3 separate regions of the Homo sapiens genome follow, and all the other regions are linked to region 1. The links come from fine-mapping of genetic effects on plasma protein levels. Region 1 holds a variant in brackets. A gene starts in each other region. All regions are shown on their reverse strands. Region 1 has its middle 90 kb from the start of MIR5192. Region 2 holds the start of GALNT10 (polypeptide N-acetylgalactosaminyltransferase 10). Region 3 holds the start of CD6 (CD6 molecule).

What was found. PIP is the chance, under the fine-mapping model, that this variant and not a neighbour inherited with it causes the effect. Protein levels are from antibody-based Olink assays in UK Biobank. Linkage for the fine-mapping came from a reference panel and not from the study's own genotypes, which makes the PIPs less certain.
Region 2: GALNT10 starts here. The variant in region 1 is fine-mapped to the plasma level of the GALNT10 protein (UK Biobank, PIP 0.98).
Region 3: CD6 starts here. The variant in region 1 is fine-mapped to the plasma level of the CD6 protein (UK Biobank, PIP above 0.99).

Annotation. Positions count from the first base shown.
Region 1 is chr2:62,294,061-62,298,405 of GRCh38, reverse strand. No RefSeq gene overlaps it. Among named protein-coding and RNA genes, the nearest start is that of MIR5192, 90 kb to the right of the region's middle. RefSeq lists an enhancer at 1,323-1,822. The variant G/C (reference allele first, on the strand shown) is at 1,976.
Region 2 is chr5:154,189,502-154,192,499 of GRCh38, reverse strand. It overlaps GALNT10 (polypeptide N-acetylgalactosaminyltransferase 10), which reads right to left and starts at 1,767. Exons shown (of 12, transcript NM_198321.4): 1 at 1,475-1,767. The coding sequence starts at 1,633. LOC124901118 (a long non-coding RNA gene) reads left to right here and starts at 2,421. Exons shown (of 2, transcript XR_007059010.1): 1 at 2,421-2,504. RefSeq lists silencers at 1,472-1,531, 1,602-1,681, 1,772-1,881, 1,892-1,991, 2,082-2,171 and an enhancer at 2,392-2,998.
Region 3 is chr11:60,968,603-60,972,947 of GRCh38, reverse strand. It overlaps CD6 (CD6 molecule), which reads right to left and starts at 1,268. Exons shown (of 13, transcript NM_006725.5): 1 at 1,034-1,268. The coding sequence starts at 1,082.

The DNA.
Region 1 (4,345 bases):
ACAGTTGATATTTAACAACCAAAGCCAGCCCAACATATAATAAGGTGTTTGAACTAAACCAAGAAGTTTCTCCCTCTAAACTTCAATTGGGTTAAATTTCTTAGGAAGAGAGCCCCTTAAAGAAGCAGCCATCAGTCAGTGTTAACTAAGCATCTCCTAACAAAGCTCTTAGATGCGGAAGAGGACTCCAAGGTGGTCTCCAACTCTCCATAGGAATTGCATCCTACAATTCCATTCCATCCTGATTAATATGTAGGATTAATTAATATGTTGGATTGGACCTGAAGTCAGTGCAGACACCACAGGTTTAGGGTTTAGTCCCATGAGACTGCTCCACTTTGGATGCCAGTCGAAAGTCACAGGTTGTCCCCAGTACTTCTGATCAATCAGCTATAAACCAAGAGTTTCCACAACCCCCTCCTCAGGTTGGATAATTTGCTAGAAGGACTCACAGAACTCAGGAAAGTATTTTACTTACTATTACTGGTTTATTGGAATGGATACAAGTTAGAAACAGGCAAATGGAAGAGATGTAAAGGACAAGGTACTAGGGGGCGGTGTGGAGCTTCCACGCTCTCTCTGGAATGCCACCCTCCCAGGACCTCAACGTATTCAGCAACTCAGAAGCTCTCTGAACCTCACTGTTCAGTTTTTAATGGAGATCCCATTACCTAGACATGATTGATTAAATCATTAGCCATTGGTGATTGACTCTATCTCCAGCCCCTCTCTCTTCCCAGGAGGTCCAGGATAGGGCTGAAAGTTCCAATCCTCTACTCCTGCCTTGGTCTTTCTGGAGAGCAGCCCCCATCCTGAAGCTAACTAGGGACCCCCAGCCACCGGACATCTCATTGGCACACAAAAGACACTCATCTCTTGGGGACAAAGCCCAAGTATATCTTATCACAGATAGACAGACTGGGCCCCTTCATGGAAAAAGTTCCCAATTTACTCTGAAAGATAAGAGTGACTATACTTCGCTGCTTGCCTGCCACGGTCCCAGTTTACACACATTGTCCCAGAGTAATTATTATTCCCACCTCCTTTCACTCTTAAGAATGTCATGGTTTGGAGGCTAAAAGTCACACGGTCACCCTAGATAAGACACATATTTAAGAAAAGAGAACTTGGAAGTCAGAGTAGAACACACCATTAAGTGTTAGGATTGTCACAAAGCCCATGAGGCTGGCTAGGGACCCCTGGAGTCAGTGTCTAAGGCTCCTTTTCTTACCAGGCCCTGCACATGCCTCTCGCACCAGGGAAAGGGAGGCCTCTGGAGAGGGCAAGGGCACCGGTTAGATGCAGCAAATCCCAAAAAAGTCTGACTTCATTGCTTTTCCATTCGTTGGTAAAGACAAATAAAAGGCTATAAAATACATTTTAAAGGGAGGGCACTAGAGACAGCATTATGGACTTTAGACCTATGAAGACCTGAAGCCCTACTTCGTATCCACACATACCACAGGCTCTGAATGCTGAGTGAAAAATAGCTCAGTGACAGAGAGAGAGAGAGAATGTGAAAAAGAGAGAGAGAGAGAATATGTGTATCTGATTCCATGTGATTTAGGGGTTTTGTCTGGAGACATCCCTGTGCCTCGCTCCCCCTCCCTGGGCGTGGCTGGCCACTCGCATCCCTGGCTCCCTCCTCCCATGTACCACGTTTCCAGTCCTCTTTGCTGAGGATAACACTGCACAAAGACAAATGGTGAAGCCTCTTTTTTCTCCAACTGAAGTAACACCCAGGCGATGAGAGCAGCACATCTTAATTCCCAACAAGTTTACTCGAAGAGCCCCTTCCTCCTCTGCTCCCTTGGCTATCCGGCACCTCGATGTCCCTCCCGCCCTTGCAGGGAAGCCTGGGTGTTGCCAGCTCCCTGGTGAGGAAAAGGCAGGTTCTCCTGAGGGAAGGAGCGAAGAGGACATCTGACTTGGGTACCCATGTTCCCTTTGGTTATTTACCTGTCCTGTGGCTGAC[G/C]CCACCACCCACACCTGGAGATGTCCCCAGAGCACACCGTGGGCGAAGGTGTTTTCCTCTCTTCATTCTCGTGTTTAATACAACCAGATCTTGGAAGCGCTGGGAAGAAGGGCAGGCAGTGAATGGTGTGACAGAGCCAAATCCTCTGACCCCACGCCTTTCCCTGGGCTTGACAGAGTGGGGACAGATAGGGCATCTCCACAGGCAAGGCTGTGGGGATTGATAAGACGGGCACACCCACAACTCCCGAGTCACTGACAACCCTCTGCATCCTGTGAAAGAGTCATTTTCAAGAAGTCAAAAACATGGTTGTAAGGGATGGCCCAAGGGAGTTTTTCAGGGGGATGATGGACCTGTTTTGTATCCTAATTGTGGTAGCAGGTACGCAACTATATATGGGCTAGAATTCATAGAACTGTAAATGAAGAAAACCCTCAACTTTGCCAGATGTTAATTTTTCAAAATTAAATTTTAAAACATGGCTTTCACACAAATATAGAATGAACATGTATCTAAAAAGTATTTAATCAGTGAGAGAACCAGCAGGATGGAAGAGCTGGTTTAAAAAAAAATGTAGGAGACATCAAAATAGTTACAATTACTGAAGGAAAGAATATTAAAGTAATATTGCTAAATCACTTTATATAAAACCTTAGACTTTCTTTCTCTTCTTTTTTTTTTTTTAAGATGGAGTCTTGCTCTGTTGCCCAGGCTGGAGTGCAATGGCGTGATCTCCCCTCACTGCAACCACTGCCTCCCAGGTTCAAGCGATTCTCCCACCTCAGCCTCCTGAGTAGCTGGGATTACAGATGCCCACCACCATGCCCGGCTAATTTTTGTATTGTTAGTAGAGATGTGGGGGTTTCACCATGTTGGCCAGGCTGGTCTCAAACTCCTGACCTCAGGTGATCTGCCCACCTCGGCCTCCCAAAGTGCTGGGATTACAGGCGTGAGCCACTGTGCCCGGACTTAGCCTTTTTTCCCCTTTTCTTTTTTTTTTACAATTTTTTATGGGGCAATATTTCATCCCATAAAATAGAATGAGTGTCCTCCCTGGCCTTTTCACTAAAATGCTTTTATTTGTGTCACTATAAAACAAGTCTGCACCCTATCAGTTTCCTATGCCTTTGTCATAAAGTTGTAAAATAACCTAATGAGTAGTAAATAGCAAGTTAGACAAAGGTCTACACCCCTAGAAAGTCAGGTAATTCCTTGAACAGGCCTGCCAGACAATGCCCAAGGCTGACATGACTCAAAGGACCTGCAGGAATCTCTGCTCCATTTTCAAGTCTTGGACAATTTTCCCTAACAATTTTCCTGTTCCTATTTCCCAGGGGAAAGGAAACAGGAATGTGAGGCCCACAGCTGTGCCCAGGGAGGAAATAGTGAACTGAGCTATCAAAGAAGGGAGAGGCCCAGGGATGTCCTGTGGTCCTAAGGAAGCTAGCTGGTCTGCATCCCAGCAGGACATCAGTGGTTTTGAAAAATATAGGCATTCATAGAAAAGATAGCAGGAAAGAAAACCAGACAGGGCTGTCTGGATCCACAGACCACCCAGATCATCCTCAGACCCACCAGAATCATTCTTGCCCCAGGGTTCCAGACCCATGGCAGGTGGCACAGCCTGGGACCTGGCCTCTCCCTCTAGGTTTCATGAGCACTGTTCCAACTGCCATGACTTCGGGTGAGTCCCTCAGCCTTTCTTTTTCTTTTCTTTTTTTTTTTCTTTTTTTTTTTTTTGGAGATAGAGTATTGCTCTGTCGCCCAAGCTGGAGTGTAGTGGCATGATCTTGGCTCACCACAACCTCCCCCTCCCGGGTTCAAGAGAGTCTCCTGCCTCAGCCTCCTGAGTAGCTGGGATTACAGGCGCACACCACCACACCGGGCTGATGTTTGTATTTTTAGTAGAGATGGGGTTTTGCCATGTTGGCCAGGCAGGTCTTGAACTCCTGACCTCAGGTGATTCACCTGCCTCAGTCTCCCAAAGTGCTGGGATTACAGGCATCAGCCACTGTGCCCAGCCCCTCGACCTTTCTTTTTCAGACATTGGAAATGGGACACGTTAGCCCTATCTGCTCAGAGGGGAACTCCAAAGCGAGCCCAGAGCAGATGTGGGAGTGGATTCGGCCTCCTCCGGACCCCTCCAGCTGGGTGGAAGGGGTCTTGCCAGCCAGTTCCCCCAGGACAGCATCTGAGTGCAGGTGGACCCTGGTGACTGGCCCCATGACAGCCAAGGCTCCGGAAACCACAGCATGTCTGCAGCTGCAGGGTCTTCTTTTGTGGGAAGGGGAAAAGCAAAGCCGCCCTGAGGGAATGCTAAACATGTGCTCAGCAGAGAGGCTCCGGGCTGGGAGAGGAAGGTGAGGCGGG
Region 2 (2,998 bases), not on the chromosome of region 1:
CCCTGGAACTCCTGACTCTGATGCTGGTACTGAATAGGAACAGAGGAAAGAGATTTCATGAACGGAAAATCCATACAGATACAGAATTTCAGGGAGAGAGGTCTAAGCTAGCTGTCAGGGTTTGAACCAGGGGTTTAGGAAAGAGATGGAAACCTTAGTTTCTAAACAGTAAGCTCTACCAGAAAGATCAATGAGACCCTCTGGGATGCTTTGCAGCAATTAACAGAGTTACAGGCGGAGCTCAAATTGGTCAGCTCTGTAGCAAAGAGCCCTCTGTGCTCCAGATGCCAGACTGCCTAGACAGCAGCCTGATACTGGGAAGAATAAGGAAAACCATCAATCTCAGAAAAGCCAGCCTCTTTCGTCGAGGCCAGCCAACAGTCAGTCAAGTCTGACCCTGATACACAAATTATCCACTTCTCATGGGACCAGAGAAATCCCGTAAGAAAGCCTGAAATGTTCCACTATATGAAACAGTCTAAGCAATACACTCACTAGCACCTCCTGGGAGGGTGGGAGTGATGTGACAGAGCTTCTGCTATGAGGGAGCTGCTAGTCTAAATGCGTGCACGCACACATACACACAAACATACGTGGGTAAGTTCAAAGGAGGCAGAAACCATTCCGATCCCAGTTTTGGCTGCAATAAACACTACAACTAACCAGACTAGACAAGTTCAGAAGAGATAGGGAAGGCTTCTGGTGTTCCATCCTCAGGACACTGGGCACCAATAGCCTCTGGGACATTTTGGGGGTCCCCCCACCAGAGCCCCACCTCTGGACTCCCATAAGGTCAAAGGCAGCAGGTCCCTCAAGGACCAGGAGCTTACCCCCTTCTCCACCCCCAGGGGCTTGAAGCTTTAAAGGGAGCATGATCTTTACATTCTGCAAGGAATCCACAGGATCTGAGAAAGGAAAAGGCTAGAGTTGGGGCGGGGGTGTTGAATAAATGGGGAGAGGAGGAAGGCCCGGGTGTCTCGTTGGGCAGATGAGAAATCAGGAAAAGGGCTGACCTGAGCAAAGAACACTGGGATCAGCAGGTAGGGGTTGTGGGGGGGGGGGGGTGGGAGGAGGGAAGCAGAGAGGACCTGGACACCAAATAGAAGAACCAGAATCTTCATTCCTATTGGCACAAGGCAGGAGTCATCCTGGGATACAGGGATGCAGATAGGATCCTTCAAAAGAGATCCGCTGGAAGACGTCAAGGAATACCAGACGGGGACAGAAAGGAAGGTGGTAACATGTGGTGAGAAATAGCGTCCTGAGTGCTAGTTCGGACTCAGTCTCTGACTGGCGTGGGACCCTGGACAAGTCCCGACAGGACTTAATTTTCCCATCCGGAAAATGGGAAGAGCTGAAGAGTCTCGGAGCTGACTCTGAGGAGGCAGACAGCAGAAGGTGGAGGAAGGAACCACAGGCTAAAAGTGAATTCGGGAAGGGGGTGTTCCCGGCCTGTAGCAACGGGGGGACTCACCTGTCCCGCCGCCGGCGCCACCGCCGCCCCCGATCCCCCAGGGGTGCCGTCGGGCTGCCGCTCGCGGTACAGCGCCCAAAGCCCCACGTTGGGCAGGAGGACCAGGGCCGCCAGCACCAGCGCCACCGCCTGCAGGAGCCGCTTCTCCTTCCGCCTCATCGGGGCCGGTCAGCCCCGCCGCGCCCCGCCGGCCCCGCCGCGCCGCCCCCAGCTCCGCGCGTCCGCCCGTCCGCCCGGCGGCGGCAGCAGCTCAGCCAGCAGAAGCGGCTGCGGCGCCGGCCCCGCTCCAACTCCGCGGCACTTCCGCCGCTCGCCGGCCGGGGAGCTGGGCGCCGCCACCACGCCGCCGCCACGAGGGGGTCGTCGCCGCCGCCACCGCCCCCGGGCCCCGCCGAGCCGCCCGCCCCGCGCCGCCTGCCCCCGCGTCGACCGCCGAGTCTCTGCGCTGCAGGCTCGGCCCTCTCACGGAGCGTCTCGGCCCGCCCGGGCGCTGCAGGATGCCGGGCCGGAGCGCTTCCCCCCTCTCGAGCCGCGATGGTCCGTCCCACTCCTCGGCGGCTCCCCCGCCCTCTGGAGCTTTGCGAAAGTCCCGGAGTTGGCGAGTTGGGCGCTAACTGGTGCGGGCTGGGCACCGCTGGGTGGGGTGCATGTCCGCTCGCCCGGGTACCCTGCCGCCCCGCCCGGCAACCTCCGCCCGGGACTGCAGCCGAACCTTTGCTGCCTCCCTGGGGATATGCAAATAGTGCTGGGGCCCCGCCGGGCGTTCTGAGCCTGGAGCCCCCGGGGCTGTCACTTCCAGCCCACCTAGGCTCGGCCCCCAGGACCTGCGGACCTACTTTGACCCCGGCGACTCGGTGTTCCCGGCCATGAAACGGGGCCACAGCCGTGCTGCACGCTCACTGTTCCGCGGGCGGGCCCTGGTTTTCTTCCTCTAGGGGGGCCCTGGCGTTAGGTGTGAACGCCCTCTGCAAACTGTAGGGAGCTGTGCCCGGCCGCCGCCCGTCTGTAGATCCTGCAAACCGGCGGGTGGGTAAGTGACGGTAGCCTCTCTGCAGCACCTTTCCTCACGCAAGTCCAACCCCCTTGGAGTTAGAATGCCCTGCATTCTCACGCGTGCTTTTGGATCCTAAGCGCACTGAGCCCTTCCCGGAAAGCTCTCAGCAAACCGTTGGCGAGCGCCACTATGTGCCAAACACTGTGCCAGGCTCTGGGATGAAATGAAAACAGACCTGAGCCCTGACGTCTGGGAGCTGAAACATGAAACACGTAATTTCACTAGACCAGGCAATGTGTCTGTAACTGTGGCGAGGGCTTTGACAGAGGAGTCGGGCTTCTGGGCGATGCGGAGGGCCGTGGAGCCGGACTCCGACGGTGATGCCAGCCAGCGGCTCCTCCTCGGGGCGCTCGACGCTGGTCACTTAGCTGCCTCCTCCCTGATGCGGTGGAACGGAGCACCCCCTTGGCTACCTTACTCTCTGCCACCCCCACATTCGTCCTCTTGATTCTCTGCTTCTCTAGCTCAGC
Region 3 (4,345 bases), not on the chromosome of region 1:
AAACTCCAGTTCCCAGAGCCGAATGGCTTTCCCTGAACCAGTATGAGGCCACAGGCTCGGAACACATGCCTGGAGATCAAGGCAGAGAGGAGAGCACTCCCTGCCCAGAGTCTCGCGACATGTACCCAGTCCTCCAAACCAGCTCGATGCCCCCTCCTGACTGGGTCTTCCTGGGTCTCCTCCATCACAAAATGAAAGCACTTGGCTCTCTGGCTGCAAGGTGGACCCAGACTCCCCTGGCCCGAATTCTGTTTCCATACCAGTCTTCCCAAATCCCAAAATGTGAGAGCTCGATGGGGTCAGGATCTCTTGCATCTCCAGGCCCCTGCCCCGCTCTGGCCAGCTTGGACCCTGCACTCAACAGGGGCCAGCAAGTATCTGGGGAGCACAGTCTAGTGCCCCAAACCTTCTGGCCATCTGATTCCCTGGCCCAGGTGGCCAGGTGCCTTGACACTTGGGGGCAGCTTGAGACGTGGGGGTGGCCTTCATGCTCGCTTATGCCCTAGACTACCCCAGCTGGTTGTGCTGAGGCCATCAGCGCCTGGTTGTCCAGAACTCTCCCTGGCTTCCCTGAGTCCTGTTTCGGGAGGTGCTCTCCTGTGATTGGCCTACGCCTGCTGGACCCCAAGCCTCAGCTTTGGCGTTGAAAGTACCACCATCAGTGGTCCTGCCTCTCTGGAAGGTGAACGGTTCCTTCTTAAGAGTTGGCAAGAAATAGGAAATGGGGGAGTTCCTGAGCTTAAGGATGGGAGAGGCACCTCCCTCCTCACACCCTAGGGACCCATTGGTAAGGCACAAAGCATGCTTCCCACATTCTGTCACTCCAGGAGGCTTCCAGGCACAGCCCCAGCCCCTCGAGGGGCTCCTGTGTCCTCTCCTAGCCCCAGATGCTGGACCTCCCTGGTACCTGAGTGTAGTCTTGGCTAAAAGATCCTAGAAAAGTGACCACAAGGAAACAACCAGAAAGGGGACTGAGAGGGCCGGACCCGGCTCCTCCAGCACCAGTGGCAGGAGATGAGGGAAGGGGGCCTACCTGAGAGGGCTGCCGTCAGCAATCCAGTGATCCCGAAGAAGAGCCACATGTCTGGAGCTGTCTCTGGCTGCTACGCGTGGCTGCCTGTGGGAAGCACCATCTTGGGGCCGGGAGGTGGACACGGCCGTTGTGCGCCCCTGGCGCAGGTCTGCTCTACCCTTTGCTGTTCTTGTTCCTGTGTCTCTCTCTGCTCTCTCCTCTCCGACACGCATGCGATCAAACCCAACCTGTGAGTGTCTCACGCCTGCTTGTTCTGCTTGTGGTTTTGGTCTGCAGGAAGCTGGGCTGCTGTTACAGGGGCTGGTGGGGAGAGCCCCAGCTGCCTGTGCTGGGAGCCCACCCATCCAGGCTGCACCCCAAGAGTCACGGAGCCAGACACACGCATGCACACGCATCCATGCAGACACACTTCCCCGAGGGTCTTCTAAGAAGAAGGGAAGTGGAAGAGCCATGCCTCATTTCTGGTGGCCCAGAAGAAAAAATTGATAATGTAGTAGCTGCTCAATCAGTACATATTGGAAGAGGGAGTGAATGACCCATTGCCTGTCCCGGTCCGTGTAATTTGGCTCTCTTGGATTAAATCCTGAGTTTTATCTTAACCTTAGGTGCAATGGTGGTTGGGAAGGAGGGTGTGGTCTTGATGCACTTTTGGAGATAAGAGCCTAAGTCTCCCCTCAGAGAAATATAAATTGGGAAGGGCCTGAGAGATGGCCATCCCACAAGTCCTTCTACAGGGAAGGGTGCCAAGGCCTTGTGGGAGCCGCCCCGTCAGATGGCACAGTGGGGCCAGCTATCCCATCTCCAGGTACCAGACTGGGCATGCCTCCGTGGGAGTCAGGCATGGGAGCTGGGTCTACAAGGCTGAGCAGGATTTTGACAAACAGCAATCATGGGAGGCCTCTGGGCCAGAAGGAATAGCAGGAGCAAAGGGCTGAAGGAAGGAAGCCCAGGGCTGCCTGAGAAACCCCGAGTTGCCCCATTGCACTGCAGCAGACTGACGCTATAGGAAGAAGGCAGGGGCCAAGCGTGTTTAATTCCCATGGTACTCCCTGTGGAGCATATGGTAGGAGGTGAATAAATGTTTATTGAATGAGAAAAGGAATAGATAATTTGGTTGTCCAAGCAGGGCCCTGGAAGTGGTCAAATCCAGAAGGGGTTTGGTTCCAAATCCTGGCCCTGCCTCAATTGGTCCCATCCCAGGTCCACCTCTCCTGGCCCTCCACTTCCTGCATCCTTGCTTGTCTTCATTTCCCCAACATGTGGAATGAGGAGCGGTCCTCCTCCATTGGGTTCGGTCCTAAATGTGGGTGTATGCATTTGATGCGGCAAGTATTAGAGCCACGGGGAACCAGGCGCCCCCAGAGTGAGACTCCTCCCAGTCCTGCCCCAGCGCCGGCACCTGCTGCCGCTGCCCTCTGGTGGAAGTCACTGGCAGCACAGGTTTGCATGGGTGCCTCGAGCTCCCAGATGCAATTCCATTCATTTACACAGTCTTGGTGTGCAGAACTCTGGACAGGACTCTGTGGAAGTGAAAGAGAGGAAACCATATTCCTGCCCTCAAGGAGGATGAAGTTCACACACACACAAGTGACCAAACCACAGGCCAAGGTAGGACACACATAATGTGAGGTCTCCTGGTCCTAAGAGGAACCCGTTTGAAATGGGCCGGGAAGGATGGCTAGACTCCATTTCTGACAATATGGTAGACAGCAGATGCTGAAGAATTCTCCTAATACAAAACACCACAAAAATATTGTAAACCATCTTTTAAAATGTGTAGCTGAGGTGGTGAGAAATGAAGAAAATCATCAGAGATCAAAAACGACAATAAGCCTGGGCAACATGGTGAAACCCTCTCTCTGCAAAAGGTGCAAAAAATTAGCCAGGTTTGGTGGCACACACCTGCGGTCTCAGCTACTCAGGAGGCTGAGGTGGGAGGATCGCTTGAGCCCAGGAGGTCAAGGCTTTAATAAGCCAAGATTGCACTGCTGTACTCCAGCCTGGGCAACAGAGTGAGACCTTGTATATGTTAATATATAAAGACAACAAAAATCCAAAGAGATCACAGCCAGCAGAGAAGTATCTGTTGATCCAGTTGACCAAGAGCTTCAGTCTTATGAACATGGACAAAAGTTAAAGCTGAGAAACAAAATCGAAGTGAAAAACAAAATCCAAAATTTCTGCCTTAAACAAAGAGCACTGAAATACAACATCCACAGTGGAGAACTCGGAGAGAAAAATTCCTTAAAGCGAGCTGACACAGAGCTTGCCCAACTCAGTATGGACTCTGAGTGGGAGAAAAATAAATGTCAACCCTGAATGCCCCTCACCACAAGTCTACCCACTAATAGGCCTGGAGGTGAAACTCATGGTGACTTTGTGGCAAAAACAACCACACAAAAAACAAACAAACAAAAAGATAAGATAAGAATTTAAAGTAAGGTAAATAATAGCTCCTTAGGCACGTGGCAGAAACAAATGATAAAAATTGTCTCTGGAGTAACTCATCCTATATTCATGACTCAAAGAAATCCCACAGAAAAACTCCCATGGAACATGAGTTCACATGTTTGTAAAACAGAAAAATCATAAAACACAGGACACAAGGTGCTTTAGGTGAGAGGAGCACCAAGCAATAAACTAAAAATGCAGACCTTCGAACACATCTCAGATGTTGGAATTGCAGTATATATAATATAAAATAAGGATGTTTCATATGCTTCAAGAATTAAAAGTTGGTAATTGAAAGTATAGATAAGGAACAAGAGACTATTTAAAGTGACCAGGAAGATTGAGGGAAAAAAAGCAAGCAGTTATGTAAAAACATAATTTTTGAAAATAGAAGCCCAGTGTACAGATTAAACAGTAGATTAAGGCTCAGCACTTTGGGAAGCTAAGGCAGTCTGATGGCTTGAGGCCAGGAGTTCAAGACTAGCCTGGCTAACACAGTGAAACCCTGTCTCTATTAAAAATACAAAAATTAGCCAGGTGAGGTGGCACATGCCTGTAGTCCCAGCTACTCAGGAGGCTGTAGCACAAGAATTGCTTGAACCCAGGAGGCAGAGATTGCAGTGAGTCGAGATTGTGCCACTGCACTCCGGCCTGGGTGAGAGTGAGACTCTGTCTCAAAAATAAATAAATAAATACATACATAAAAATAAACAGCAGATTAATATGGCTGAAGAGACAACTACTGGGGTGAACAATAGATTTGAAGAATTTACCCAGGATGGAGCACAGGAGGACAAAGTGGTGGAAAATATGAAAGAGGCTAAGAGACATAGACAAGGAACAAGGATTTAAATATGTCTA